4 linked regions of the Homo sapiens genome follow. The protein of the gene in region 1 purifies or fractionates together with the protein of each later gene. This does not show direct contact. Each region holds a gene or a part of one and is shown in the gene's direction. Other genes may lie near its edges.

What was found.
Region 2: the proteins of SUPT3H (region 1) and YEATS2 purify together in Homo sapiens (affinity purification with mass spectrometry, with the first as the bait; one large-scale study listed by BioGRID). This does not show direct contact.
Region 3: the proteins of SUPT3H (region 1) and WDR37 purify together in Homo sapiens (affinity purification with mass spectrometry, with the first as the bait; one large-scale study listed by BioGRID). This does not show direct contact.
Region 4: the proteins of SUPT3H (region 1) and KAT14 purify together in Homo sapiens (affinity purification with mass spectrometry, with the first as the bait; one large-scale study listed by BioGRID). This does not show direct contact.

What each region holds. Positions count from the first base shown.
Region 1 is NC_000006.12:44,825,961-44,829,124, reverse strand, and holds the end of SUPT3H (transcription initiation protein SPT3 homolog), read left to right. Parts: 3' UTR 1-2,399; downstream 2,400-3,164.
Region 2 is NC_000003.12:183,753,059-183,756,796, forward strand, and holds part of YEATS2 (YEATS domain-containing protein 2), read left to right. Parts: intron 1-1,064; coding exon of another isoform or gene 1,065-1,067; coding exon 1,068-1,307; intron 1,308-3,469; coding exon 3,470-3,631; intron 3,632-3,738. UniProt on the Homo sapiens protein: Chromatin reader component of the ATAC complex, a complex with histone acetyltransferase activity on histones H3 and H4. YEATS2 specifically recognizes and binds histone H3 crotonylated at 'Lys-27' (H3K27cr).
Region 3 is NC_000010.11:1,104,647-1,108,384, forward strand, and holds part of WDR37 (WD repeat-containing protein 37), read left to right. Parts: intron 1-479; coding exon 480-621; intron 622-3,738. UniProt on the Homo sapiens protein: Required for normal ER Ca2+ handling in lymphocytes. Together with PACS1, it plays an essential role in stabilizing peripheral lymphocyte populations.
Region 4 is NC_000020.11:18,140,625-18,144,362, forward strand, and holds part of KAT14 (cysteine-rich protein 2-binding protein), read left to right. Parts: intron 1-1,583; coding exon of another isoform or gene 1,584-1,733; 5' UTR 1,734-2,036; coding exon 2,037-2,295; exon of another isoform or gene 2,296-2,545; intron 2,546-3,738. Other genes in the region: protein PET117 homolog, mitochondrial precursor, read left to right, coding at 1,584-1,733. UniProt on the Homo sapiens protein: Component of the ATAC complex, a complex with histone acetyltransferase activity on histones H3 and H4. May function as a scaffold for the ATAC complex to promote ATAC complex stability. Has also weak histone acetyltransferase activity toward histone H4.

The sequences.
Region 1 (3,164 bases):
CAGATCCACCACTCCTGCACATGCCATACACATTTAGAAGCCAAGTATTCAGAATCAGTAGAAGGGGAGCAGAGTGATTTCTTGCTTCCTCCCTTCAAAGCACTACCACACCTAGACTGGAAATGTGGGCTGGGTAATTTCTTGCTGTTAGCAGCCGAGCTACCCTTCTGGCATCTATACTTTCTCCAGTAAATGAGGAACCGTAACTCTTTGGAACAAACCAAAATATAGCAGATGTAATTGTACAGTTCCTGATTAAACTTCAGTTGCAAAAAAGAAAGTTATTTCTTTAATTCTGTGGGAGTTTTGTATAATTTTACTTTTATGGTTTTTACACATACTTGAAACACTCTTTCTAAAGAATTAATAAAAACAGAAATGAGAAACATGAAAGATCTTTTTCTTGATACTGCTCCTTTTTCTTGATACTGCTCAAGAGAGCAAGCCTCTCTTGATACTGCTTCCTAGATTTAAGGGTAAAGAAAGTAGAAATAGTTCTCCCTTCACCCAAATTTGGAAGTATAAAACTTTCTGAACATGCCATTTAGAGGTTATGTCATTAGCTTTCCTGCCTTCTTATATTGTAATAGTTGCGATTCAAAAACACTGTTTCAATTTTAAATTCAAGACTTTTTATTTGAAAACCATCAGACTCAAAGAATTATGAGGCTCAGTTAATATTATTATGCCACATTATTTACATTTGTTAACTGTCATTTACCTGCTCTATGTTAATCTTTTTAGAAAAAATTTGCATTTCAGAAACAAAAAGCACGGATAGATATATAATATCAAAATATTCCCAAAGGATTTTGATGTTCCATCTATGCTTGTTAAAATGTATGATTATGATTAAACTTTTTATCATTCTTATTTTCCTTGGCATCCATAATCATGGAAAATTACAAGCTTGCAGTAAACATCCTAACTTAACTTAACTTTTAAACGATAGCATTTATTGTATTTGGTTTTGATCTGCCAGGCTTATAGATGGTATAAAATTTTCAGGGGATAATTTTTCACATCAAAATTCCTTCTCTCCCACATTATACATTTTAAAGTATGCACAAGGCAGAAAATATAGGGTTTGGGTTTTTTTCCTTCGTTTTATTCCACCTGATCTCCTTATAGTCCCAGAGAAGGAAGACTCAATGTACATTTCTCTCAGAAATATGACAGGTCTGTGTTTTTGTTGGTCTGGCATATGTTTGTCTATCTTGAACAGTCTGACAGGTAATTATTTATAAAATCTGGTTTTGCCCAGTAAGTTCATATAAAACCTTTCATTTTTCATCATAAGCCAGTAAGCTGAATTTAGAATAAAGCAAGGTCATTTATGTCTGTCCTGAACCAGCCTACATGTCCCCATAATTGCTCAATATTTTTAATTCCCTTTTCTATTTTTTATACTTAGGTTCTTTCTCTGACTCTTTGCACAATACTAAATTTGAAGTGAAATAAAACTTCCTTCAGCAGTGACTATAGAAACAAAAGAAAATTTACAGAAGGAATGTTTAAGAAAACTTCAGTAAATTATTTTCTCAATAATCATAATGTTAGAGCAGAAGATAGTCTTAGAGATCATTAAGAACAGCTGCTCATCTTGCAAATGAAAAAACCATGGCCTAGAGAGGGAAAGTGAGTTTCCTAAGATCACTCAATAATGTAGTGACAGACCAGAGATGAGAATCGATGGTCCCTAATTTTCAGTCGGTATTATACAGTATTTTCTACCATACTGGGTTAGCATAAGAATATTACTAAGACATGTTGGGGTTTTATGGCATATTTATCCTAGACAACGATGTAAATTTATTTAAAAACTGTACTAATTATGGATACATCCTAAAGCATACGTGTTATATAGTAAAATCTTCAGTGTGACTGTGGTATTAAGTAAACAGTCTGTTATCTTACACATCAGGCTTAACTCTAAGTCAAATGGAAATATACAAAGCTAGTTTCTATTTTTTGTCCCTTGTATTTTAGAGACTGAATTTGAAAATAAATAAGCCAATAAATAAATAGCGTCTCTTGATACTGCTTCCTAGATTTAAGGGTAAAGAAAGTAGAAATATTTCTCCCTTCACCTAAATTTGGAAGTATAACTTTCTGAACGTGCCATTTAGAGGGTTATGCCATTAGCTTTCCTGCCTTCTTAGATTGTAATCGTTGTGATTCAAAAATACTGTTTCAATTTTAAAACCAAGACTTTTTATTTGAAAACCATCAGAAGCACAAATATTTTTTAAATGGTGTATATAATTCCTGTATCTGGGGAGAACCCTTCATTTATTGCTGTTCTTTGTTTTTATAAAATAATAAACAAGCCATGTCTGATGCTTTTACCATGTAGAAGACAAATAAACATAACTGGTGATTCTTGGTCTGAAAGAAAACATGTTTACTTGTTTAGAATTAATTATAAAGTTTAATTTTATGAATTTTTTTACGTAGTTCTCAAATCAGGCAATGCTTTCCAGTTCATATAACCTCTTGTGTAAAACTGAATCACTAAAGAGAACATATTCTCTCATCTGCCCCCCTGGAATTTGGATAGAACCTTTCCAGGCTACATTTAAAATTCTACCATCAACCATGTATACATCTCATAAAATATTTTACAGTTTCCTGTATGCTCTGGCCGAACATTTCATAGTACATAAACACTCTGCAAATAATCTAAGGGCATCAAGTTGAATATGTCATAGCAGTGGCCACTACAAAGAGCTAATTCTCCAGCAACACAGTTTCTTATTTTTACCTTCTTATTTGAAACTCAAGATGAAACTTTACATGCTATTGTTGTACAGTGGCAGGGGTGAGAAGAGAGCAGGGAACTCTAGCAGTTTTTGTGGAATTGTGTTCATTAAAGCAAAGGCTTTCTGCAGAGGGCATCTAGCCAAGCTTAAACAACAAAACTTTGCCTGCAGGAATTGGATGTAAATGTGATGGTTAAATAAGGGCCAGATGTCGTTAAAAACTCAAATATTAGAAAGTCGTATCTCTTAAAGAAAGTCTCAAATGTTGTAAGTCGGATACTGATACCATGATACCTAAAGAAAGAGACGAGACTTGCATTTGTTTTCCAGAGCAAGATAGATAGTAAATAGTCAAGCTGTCATAAGTCATGGAAGTTTTGGCAATTGAAGCATATTTTAAAG
Region 2 (3,738 bases), on another chromosome or scaffold:
AAGTGCTGGGATTACAGGCATGACCCACCACGCCTGGCCTAAAACAGATTTTTATCACTTGATAATTCCTTATAATGTATTACAGGAAGACTTTATGGTTCAGCTTCTGATTGTGCGAGCAAGAAACTTGGATATTAAATACCTGGTTTTACTTAAGAAAAGATTCATCACCAACAATGTATTTTGACCATGCCATTTTTAAATTTAACAAATATATGTGTATAAATACATATTTTAATGTTCCCATATATAAGCATAAAAGATATAAAATTGATCTTAAATGTTTTATTTCTAAGCCTATATTTTAATGTGGTTAGTATTATAGTTCTTTTATAAAATCTCAACTTTATTCCTCTTTAGATTTCAATTGCATCTTTTTTATGGGCATTTAATAAGATACAAGAGGGGCCGGGCACGGTGGCTCATGCCTGTAATTCCCAGCCTTTTGGGAGGCTGAAACCATCGGATCACCTGAGGTCAGGAGTTCAAGACCAGCCTGGCCAACATGGCAAAACCCCGTCTCTACTAAAAATACAAAAATTAGCCAGGGATGGTGGTGCATACCTGTAATCCCAGCTATTCCGGAGGCTGAGGCACAAGAATTGCTTGAACCCGGGAGGTGGAGGTAGCAGTGAGCTGAGATCACACCACTGCACTCTAGCCTGGGTGACAAGTGAAATAATGTCTCAAAAATAAGTAAATAAATAAGATAGGAGGATATCATTAGATTTAGTGAATGCTTTCTAAGATTTTTTCTTCTCTAAACAGTTTTTCAGTTTATATATTAAAAAATGGAGGAACATAAGAACTTTTGTTCTTTTTATGTTATACATGGTTTATAGTTAATAATGTTTTCAAGTTTTTTTAAAAAAGCACTTTAAACATTATTCTAAGCATATATATTTTTCACCAAAAATATGAAGGGATGATTGATTGTATTTATTTTGCTACCAGTACATGGTTTAAAATGGTGTTGAAATAATGCATTTTTATTCTTTTTCCACAACGGTAAGGTTTTATTTCAAAGCGATTGATGACTTGCCGTTTGCCTCTTTCATCTCAAGCAGGATTCCCAGCTAGCACTGAAGCTGAACGACACACTCCGTTTTATGCTTTGCCATCTTCATTGGAAAGAACACCCACCAAAATGACTACATCCCAGAAAGTTACCTTTTGTTCCCATGGCAATTCAGCTTTCCAGCCAATAGCATCAAGCTGCAAAATTGTTCCACAAAGTCAGGTTCCTAATCCTGAGTCACCTGGAAAATCCTTCCAGCCCATCACCATGAGCTGCAAGATTGTGTCAGGTATGCAGATGTTTTGAAGACAGTGTATGTGGAGTTGACTGGATGTTAAAATTGTTGGAACAACAAAACAAAATACTTGGCTTTTTTTCTCTTAAGTTCTTCTAAGCAGTGTTATGTTTAACAAAAGGAAGTTTATCACTGTTGATTGGCAAAGCTGTCACAAGGCAAAAACAAAGCTCATTCATACGGAAATGAATGGAGGAGATAAATGAAACTCAAATGGTCAAATTTTTGTCTGCCAGAATCAGCACAGGTAAAATGTTTGCTAGGATATATGGCTGAAACTAAGGTGTAGGAATCGTGTTTGGGGATTATATACATGGAAACCACAGTGACTAGTGATAGAAAAAATTTAGAGGCCTTTGGCATGGAGTTAAATTTTAAGGGTTAGAGTTGGTTGGGAATTGAAATGCTTTATTCTGTCTGTAACCACACTAGAAAATTATTCATTCCTATTGTCAGTAGGTAGTTCTGAGTTGTCTTGTTCACTAAGATTGGATTATCTTTTGCCTTGTGATAGTTTCATTTTATGTTAGGTAAAATTTAGTAGGAATATATGGTTTTGACTGTTCCACCTTAGAACAAAACATGTTTGTTAAAAGGCAATTGGAAATAACCAGGAAGTATGAGGACTTCTGTATAATAGTTAAATGAAGGGGGGAAAAAAAGAATGTTTGGTGTTGTAAGTAGACAGCTAAGTAGAAATAGGATCCAAATCTTTGATGAGAGATAAATAGCTTCTAATTGGTAGGCAATTTTTTTTTTTTGAGATGGAGTTTCACTCTTGTCACCTACGCTGGAGTGCAATGGCGCGATCTCAGCTCACTGCAGCCTCCACCTCTCTCGGGTTCAAGTGATTCTCCTGGCTCAGCCTCCCAAGTAGCTGGGACTGCAGGCACGTGTCACCACTCCCAGCTAATTTTGTATTTTTAGTAGAGACGGAGTTTCACCATATTGGCCAGGCTGGTCTTGAACTCCTGACCTCAGGTGATCCACCTACCTTGGCCTCCCAAAGTGCTCCGGTTACAGGCGTGAGCCACCGTCCCCTGTCATTGGTAGGCAATTTTACCTACCAGGTAGAAAAATTTTGGAACTTGCTACTTCAGAGGTGGAATAGGCTGAACATATAAATTGATTTGAAGTTTAAAGAAATTCATGGATGACGTTTGATCAATAAAAGACAGTAGAGGATGTTTAACTGTCAGTAACTTTTGAGAGTATTTTGCGGGAACACGAATCTTTCTGGGTTACGGCTGTGACATAGTATTGACAGAGACTTTTATTCTGGGTAGGTGAATTTCATATTTTCCTATTCAAAACAAGACACCAGGTTCTTAAATCTAGCTGTTTACTTACTGATTTTCTTCCTTCCTTTCTTTTTTTTTTTTTTTTTTTTTTTTTTTTTGAGACAGAGTTTTGCTCTTGTTGCCCAGGCTGGAGTGCAATGGCACGATCTCGGCTCACTCCGCCACCCGGGTTCAAGCGATTCTCCTGCCTCAGCCTCTCGAGGAGCTGGGATTACAGGCATGCGCCACCACACCCAGCTAATTTTGTATTTTTAGTAGAGACAGGGTTTCTCCATGTTGGTCAGGCTGGTCTCGAACTCACAACCTCAGGTGATCCGCCTGCCTCGGCCTCCCAAAGTGCTGGGATTACAGGCACGAGCCACTGCACCTGGTGTCTCATGCCCGGTCTCTAATTTTAGTGTCTTCGAGTATAACCAGTACTATAAAAGCCTGCCTATGGTGTTAAAAGATTTATCATATCAAGATTCAGCAGTTACAAAAAAAGGTTCAGCAGTTTTGCACTGCTGTGTAAAGCACTGCTTTCTGAACTATAAGGTGCATACCAGGAGATCTTGTTGAAGTGAGATTTATGTTTAGTAGGTCAAGGATGGGACCATAAAATCTGTTTCTTACAATTTCCTCGATGATACTGATGCTGTTGATCCATGGATAAGGATGCAGAGCATGAAACATACATCCTCTGCCTCCTTTGTACCTCTGTTGCTGCTCAGTACCGGGAGCACGCAGTATCCATTTTATTTTCCCAATTTGTTACCTTTGTCCTGGTGGCACTGACCTTCTTCCTTGTCCTCGACATCTTCTTACGTGAGTTGAATATGTGTATTTTGTTTGTATTCTCTCTTTTTAATTAATAAGGTTCCCCAATATCAACTCCAAGCCCATCACCATTGCCTCGAACCCCGACTTCCACTCCAGTCCACGTGAAGCAAGGCACTGCCGGCTCTGTTATTAATAATCCTTATGTTATCATGGACAAGCAGCCGGGGCAGGTGATTGGAGCCACCACTCCCAGTACAGGTGTGTATTAGATCCATATTTGTACCATCTAAAGGGTTTGATCTTTATTAAAAATGTAATCCTGCCATGACTTGGTAGCCATGTAATTGGAGAATGAAATCTCCCGT
Region 3 (3,738 bases), on another chromosome or scaffold:
AAGGGAAGGGTGTTAGGCATGTACGGGGTGGGGGTGGCTTGGGGCCATCTTGGGATGCTGCCTGCTGAAGTTGCTTCTGCGAATCTATCTCTAAGTGCATTTCCTGCATGAGCGTTAAAGATTGTATTTGACTGAGGACCCATAGCGTTGTATCATTAGAAGGTATTCTAAGCAAAGAATCAAGATTTAAGTGGTTCTCACATTCAACCTGTTAATTTGCCTGACCTTCTAACTGGTAGGGTCAGAAAATGGGTTATGCACCTGTTTGGTTTTCTGTTCCTTTGACATGGACGGCTGAAAGGACTTCAGCTTCTGAGGGAAAACCTGCCCCACTGTGACCCACATGCTGCTGAGTGATTCCATTAGGTCAGGTTCACAGTCTCAGAGAGACGGCTTCTTGGGTTCTTGTGCTGTTGAAAAGCGTCTCTCTCAGCGTGCTCCTCAGGTGATGACCTTGTGTTTTGCCATCTTGGTTACAGGGCACGACCAGGAGTTGACGCACTGCTGCACACACCCCACCCAGCGGCTCGTGGTGACCTCCTCCCGTGACACGACTTTCCGCCTCTGGGATTTCAGGGACCCCTCCATCCACTCGGTGAATGTTTTCCAGGGACACACGGAGTGAGTTGCGGTAGTTTAGACATCTGTCCTTAGTCATGAAAAAGTTCTGTGGGTTGACATGAAAACTTAATTCTAGCCTTAATTTTCAGTATTTCCGACTCTACTATCTTTCAAAAAAATAACTACCTTTCAAATTCTGCTATTCTTTTTCTAAACATTTAGCTCCATTTTGGCTATTTCAAAGGATGTAGGAGATTAAGAGAAGGCACCCTCCGAAGTTCTCTCAAGAAGTTTAATGCAGACAGAATGGGGGAGTGGGTGGAGAGGGTTAGAGAAGAGCAGGGCTGCCAGAGCCTGTAGCTGAGCACAGGGGCCGGCCACGCCACCATAGGAGCCGCGGGAGCTGTTACTCCTACCCACGGGGTGTCTCCTGGATCTTTTCCATCTAGTTTTTGTTATTACACGTGTCTGCGTGGTATATTCTGGGAGAAGGTATACACATAGACGCGCAAACACAGACATAGACCCTCAATCCAGTGTGTCCCTCTCTGCTTGGGTTTCTCTCCGGCAACTCAAGTGTAAGGTCTTTTTTTTCTGAGACGGAGTCTCGCTCTGTCGCCCAGGCTGGAGTGCAGTGGCGCTATCTCGGCTCACTGCAAGCTCCGCCTCCCGGGTTCACGCCATTCTCCTGCCTCAGCCTCCCGAGTAGCTGGGACTAGAGGCACCTGCCACCACGCCTGGCTAGTTTTTTGTATTTTTAGTAGAGATGGGGTTTCACCGTGATAGCCAGGATGGTCTCGATCTCCTGACGTCGTGATCCGCCTGTCTCGGCCTCCCAAAGTGCTGGGATTACAGGCGTGAGCCACCGCGCCCAGCCGTGTAAGGTCTTAACAGAACTCTTCAGTTCTTTCCGTGACCGTCTCCTTCCCCCAGTCTGGCCCTGCTCAGTCAATGATGAGACCGTCTGCCCAGTCACGGGGGCTGTCTACCTAGAGTGTTCCCTGGTTCTTCTCTTTTAATCTCTGTTCCCCGTTCCCCCATCATGCCCCACTGTGGTCCACTGGCAAGTCTCCTGCCAGCCATGCCTGTGGGATCTTCCCGGCCGCTCCTCGCTCCTCCATGCTCCCCCTACCTCCCACCAGTGCTGCTCTCCACCCCGACGTCTGGATAAGCAGTGTGCATTGAAAGGTTTATAAATGAACTCCAAATATGAAAATCTGTTTTATATGTTTAACGTTAGTTACTAAGTTTTAGATTTAATGTTCAAAATGTTAGTAAGATGTTGGAAAGGAAAATAGGACTTTTTGTTTGTTTGTTTGTTTGTTAATAGACGGAGTCTCTTTCTGTCGCCCGGGCTGGAGTGCAGTGGTATGATCTCGGCTCACTGCAGCCTCTGCCTCCCGGGTTCAAGCGATTCTCCTGCCTCAGCCTCCCTAGTAGCTGGGATTACAGGCGCCCACCACCATGCCTGGTTAATTTTTGTATTTTTAGTAGAGGTGGGGTTTCACCATGTTGGTTGGGCTGGTCTTGAACTCCTAACCTCAGGTGATCCGCCTGCCTCAGCCTACCAAAGTGCTGGGATTATAGGTGTGAGCCATCGCGTCTGGCCAGGACAACGTTTTTAAAAAGAAGCTTGAGATTGGAAAGCTAATTCCTTGACTCTGAGGCTGGAACGGGAGCAGGCAGCAGTCACGACCATGCGTAGAGATCTTTATGGCAGCCTGGGTCTGTTCTGGGGGCATCACACGCATTAAACTGCTCCGTCCTGACATCAGGTCAGCGTTTATTCTGCCAGCTCCGTCAGCGATAGCCATAGTAATACAGACCTCCCGGTGGTCAGTGGCTGAACGCAGCACTGTGTTGTTGCTGCATCAGGGTGCAGCAGGCGCTGAGCTGGGCCCCCATGAGCTCCGCCACATGGGCCTGACCCCGCTGCAGGCCAGCTCATTGGTGAGGAAGATGCTGCAGCTCGGGGAGCGCTGCTTCCCATGCATGTTAGCTTGGATGTGGTGCTCCCCGACGTCCACCAGATGCAGAGGGGCCCCACAGCAAAGCCCTGGCTGGACCTGGGCCCACCACCTGGCACCACTGTGTAGGGCGGGGCAGAGGGGCCCGCATGACTGCCCTGCTGTTTCTCATGAGAATTCATTGGAAGGGCAGTCGGAGGCCTAGAGGACGGGAGGAGCAAGATGGTCTCACTCCTGCGCCTGCAGTGCTTTCCTAAGCTTTTTGCTTAGAAAAGTTTCAAGCCTACATAAAAACCAACAGAGTAGTACAGTGTACCCACAAACCCTTCACCTAGGTTCGCCTGTTGTATTGCAGCACTGCTGTCTCTTTACACATGTGTACACACCTCTCTCTGAAACACACGCCCACTAACCCTTCACCTAGGTTCACCTGTTGTATTGCAGCACCGCTGTCTCTTTACACATGTGTACACACCTCTCTCTGAAACACACGCCCACTAACCCTTCACCTAGGTTCACCTGTTGTATTGCGGCACTGCTGTCTCTCTTTACACATGTGTACACACCACTGTCTGTAACACACAACACGCACTACCCTGTCACCTAGGTTCGCCTGTTGTATTGCAGCACTGCTGTCTCTCTTTACACATGTGTACACGCCTCTCTCTGAAACACACGCCCACTTCCCCTTCACCTAGGTTTGCCTGTTGTTGTATTGCAGCACTGCTGTCTCTATTTACACATGTGTACACACCTGTCTGTAACAGACACGCCCACTTATCCTTCACCTAGGTTCACCTGTTGTTGTATTGCAGCACTGCTGTCTCTGTAGATGTGTACACACCTCTGTCTATAACACACACTTGTATATTTTCTTTGGCTGAGCCCTTTGAAAGGAAAACTCCAGCATGCATTTTCTAAGAATAAGGATGTTCTCCTAATACAGTACCATTGTTCAAATAAGAAAATTAGTAAAAATTCTATGGCATCCTTTATCTGGTCCACATTTAAATTTACTCAGTTCTCCCCAAAATGTCTTTGATACTTTTTTTAGAGCTAGGATTTAATCAGGATTCTCTCATCACATTTAGATATTATGTCCTTTGGCTTCTTTTAATCTAGAATGGTCCTTCCCCCATTTTTTGTTACTTTTTAGGATATTGAGTTTTTTGGTGAAGAATCCAAGCCTGCTCTTTTGCAGAACGCCCCT
Region 4 (3,738 bases), on another chromosome or scaffold:
CGTGGTGAAACCCCGTCTCTACTAAAAATACAAAAAAATTAGCCAGGCCTGGTGGCGCACGCCTGTAATCTCAGCTACTGGGGAGGCTGAGGCACAAGAATCGCTTTAACTCAGAAGGTGGAGATTGCAGTGAGCTAAGATCGTGCCATGGAGCCAAGATCTCCAGCCTGGGTGACAGAACGAGACTCCTTCTCAAAAAAAAAAAAAAAAAACCAATAAAACAAAACAAAAAAAACCCTATTTATTTATTTTGAGATGGGGCTTGTTCTGTCACCCAGGTGGGAGTGAAGTGGCACAATCTTAGCTCACTGCAGCCTGTGCCTCCCAGGCTGAGGTGATCCTATCACCTCAGCCTCCGGAGTAGCTGGGAACACAGGCACACACCACCACTCCCTGCAATTTTTTTTTTTTTTTTTTTTTTTATTTTTATTTTTGCTAGAGATGGGATTTTGCCATGTTGCCCAGGCTGGTCTAGAACTTCTGAGCTCAAGCAGTCTGCCTGCCTTGGCCTAAGATTACAGGAGTGCTGGGATTACAGGAGTGAGCCACCACGCCTGGCCTAAAACCTTTAGAGTATTTTGTGAGCAATAAACTATAAAATGTTAGTTATTAGTAATGACTGATGTTTTTAAAAGTCTCTTCTTGGGTGCCAGGTCCACGTTCTGAAGTGCTGTGGTTTTTTAGTGCTTACTAAGGTAACTACCATTGATGAGCATTTATTTTTTCCGCTGGTAGTAGCATCCTTCTTTTTCTTCTTTCTCTGTTATATAATTAATTAATAATTCTGCATGATTTTTACATTGTTAACTTTACATGCTAGAAGCCAAGTTGAGATTTTAGTAATCTGCATTTTTTCTGTTGGTGTTTATTGTTCAGCTAGGATAAGTGCTAACAGAAGAGTAGTTTAGAGTGTTACTGTAGTAACTCGCCAAGTTTTTAAAGCATTACATATCAATTAAACTTTAAAAATTTAACATTGGCCGGGTGCAGTGGCTCACGCCTGTAATCCGGCACTTTGGGAGGCTGAGGCAGGTGGATTACTTGAGATCAGGAGTTCGAGACCAGCTTGGCTGACGTGGTGAAACCCCGTCTCTACTAAAAATACAAAAATTAGCTGGGCATGGTGATGCACGCCTGTAGTCTCAGCTACTCGGGAGGCTGAGGCCGGAGAATCACTTGAACCCAGGAGGTGGAGGTTGCGGTGAGCTGCGGAGTGCAGCCACTGCACTCCAGCCTGGGCGACAGAGCGAGACTCTTGTCTCAAAAAATAAATAAAAAAAAATTTAACATAGTGCCAGTTTTTTTTTTCTGTTATTTCCCATTAAATTTTCTGTACTAAATGTTCAGGAATTTCTTAAAATATGATAAGAAATCATTTCAGTAATAACATTTAGCACACTACCAAATTTATTTGATCGTTTATTACATTTTACATTTGTACAGAAAATTAAAATAGTAACTGGGTATTTGGAATCTGAAAGTTTTAAGTATATTTTGGTAACACTGTTATTTGGATTTGAATGGCACAAGGATGGGGACCACCTGTTCGGGATGTTACTGAAATCTGTTTCTTACGTTTTTAGAGGCTTCGTGACGGAGTTATCAGAGACATTGAGAGGCAAATTCGGAAAAAAGAAAACATTCGTCTTTTGGGAGAACAGATTATTTTGACTGAGCAACTTGAAGCAGAAAGAGAGAAGATGTTATTGGCAAAAGGATCTCAAAAATCATGACTTGAATGTGAAATATCTGTTGGACAGACAACACGAGTTTGTGTGTGTGTGTTGATGGAGAGTAGCTTAGTAGTATCTTCATCTTTTTTTTTGGTCACTGTCCTTTTAAACTTGATCAAATAAAGGACAGTGGGTCATATAAGTTACTGCTTTCAGGGTCCCTTATATCTGAATAAAGGAGTGTGGGCAGACACTTTTTGGAAGAGTCTGTCTGGGTGATCCTGGTAGAAGCCCCATTAGGGTCACTGTCCAGTGCTTAGGGTTGTTACTGAGAAGCACTGCCGAGCTTGTGAGAAGGAAGGGATGGATAGTAGCATCCACCTGAGTAGTCTGATCAGTCGGCATGATGACGAAGCCACGAGAACATCGACCTCAGAAGGACTGGAGGAAGGTGAAGTGGAGGGAGAGACGCTCCTGATCGTCGAATCCGAGGATCAGGCATCAGTGGACTTATCGCACGACCAGAGTGGGGATTCCCTCAACAGTGATGAAGGAGACGTGTCTTGGATGGAGGAGCAGCTGTCCTACTTCTGTGACAAGTGCCAAAAATGGATACCAGCCAGTAAGGAGCTTCTCAATTCCTTTGATTTGTCAATTCCTGTGTGAAGGTTTGTTTTTCCAACCTGTGAAAGAAACGTGAATGTAAAAGAGACCTAAATAAAAGGATAATTATATTTATTCTCTAGTTGATCAGCTATAAATTTATATAAAACATAGGCATGTTTGTACTAATGAAACGTACTGTCAACCTCTATCACATTGTTAAATTAACACTTTTGGTGGTAACTCAATAAAATTGAGAAAATTGGAAATCCTGTGTTACTTAAAGAATTAGCCATATTTTTCTAACAAGGTCACAGAGATTTAGGGCCAAATTCCAGTCCCAGTGTTGAATTCATGTTCAAGTTTATAAAAATTACTTTGTTAATATTTAACTTACGTGGAGAACTCCTGCTATTGTATACTGAAAAGAGGTTAGAATTAGCAGATTGAAGGTGTTTTTTGCCCTTTTTCTAGGACCAGTCTTTTTTTCCATTTTCCTTTTTTTCTGCTGGCAAGAGATACCTCATACACACTCCCTGATTGCCTCAATCTTGAGATTTTCTTTTCTTTCTTTTTTTTTTTTGAGATGGAGTTTTGCTTTTGTTGCCCAGGCTAGAGTGCAATGGCATGATCTCGGCTCCTGGGTTCAAGCGATTCTCCTGCCTCAGCCTCCCAAGTAGCTGGGATTATAGTGTTTGCCAGCACACCTGGCTAATTTTTTTTTTTATTTTATTTTTTTTTTTTGAGACGGAGTTTTCCTCTTATTGCCCAGGCTGGAGTGCAATGGCATGATCTTGGCTCACTGCAACCTCCGTCTCCCAGGTTCAAGTGATTCTCCTGCCTCGGCCTCCCGAGTAGCTGGGATTACAGGCATGCGCCACCATGCCCGGCCAATTTTGTATTTTTAGTAGAGATGAGGTTTCTTCTCCATGTTGGTCAGGCTGGTCTCAAACTCCCAACCTCAGGTGATCCATCCGCCTCGGCCTCCCAAAGTGCTGGGATTACAGGCATGTGCTACTGTGCTCGGCCCTGATCTTGAGATTTTCAATGGCCAGCTTCCTGGCACCTGAGGAGTATGGCTTGCCAGCCATCATATGGTTTATACCGAAACAGGATTTTCCCATTAGGCAAGAGACTAGTAAAGATATAGGTACTTGAGGAATGCCTTTGTGTAATATAATTTGTAACCAAGTCAGAGAAATACATATATAACTGTGAAGAGGGTCATTTTCTGGCATGTGGAAATGTTTTTCTTAAAATGGGTTCAACTTCAAATTTAGTCACTGTTAACAAATTAATAGTAACATTTTCACAGGAAATGCAGAATTTACTAGTTAGCTGGTTTTTGCTTCTGAGCGGTCTCTGTTATTGATTTCAGGTTCTGCCTGAATTCTCAGTGGCTTTCCCTTTGTCCTGTTGAGGACAAATTTTAAGCTACCCTTTGTGGTCAGGACCCTGCTAA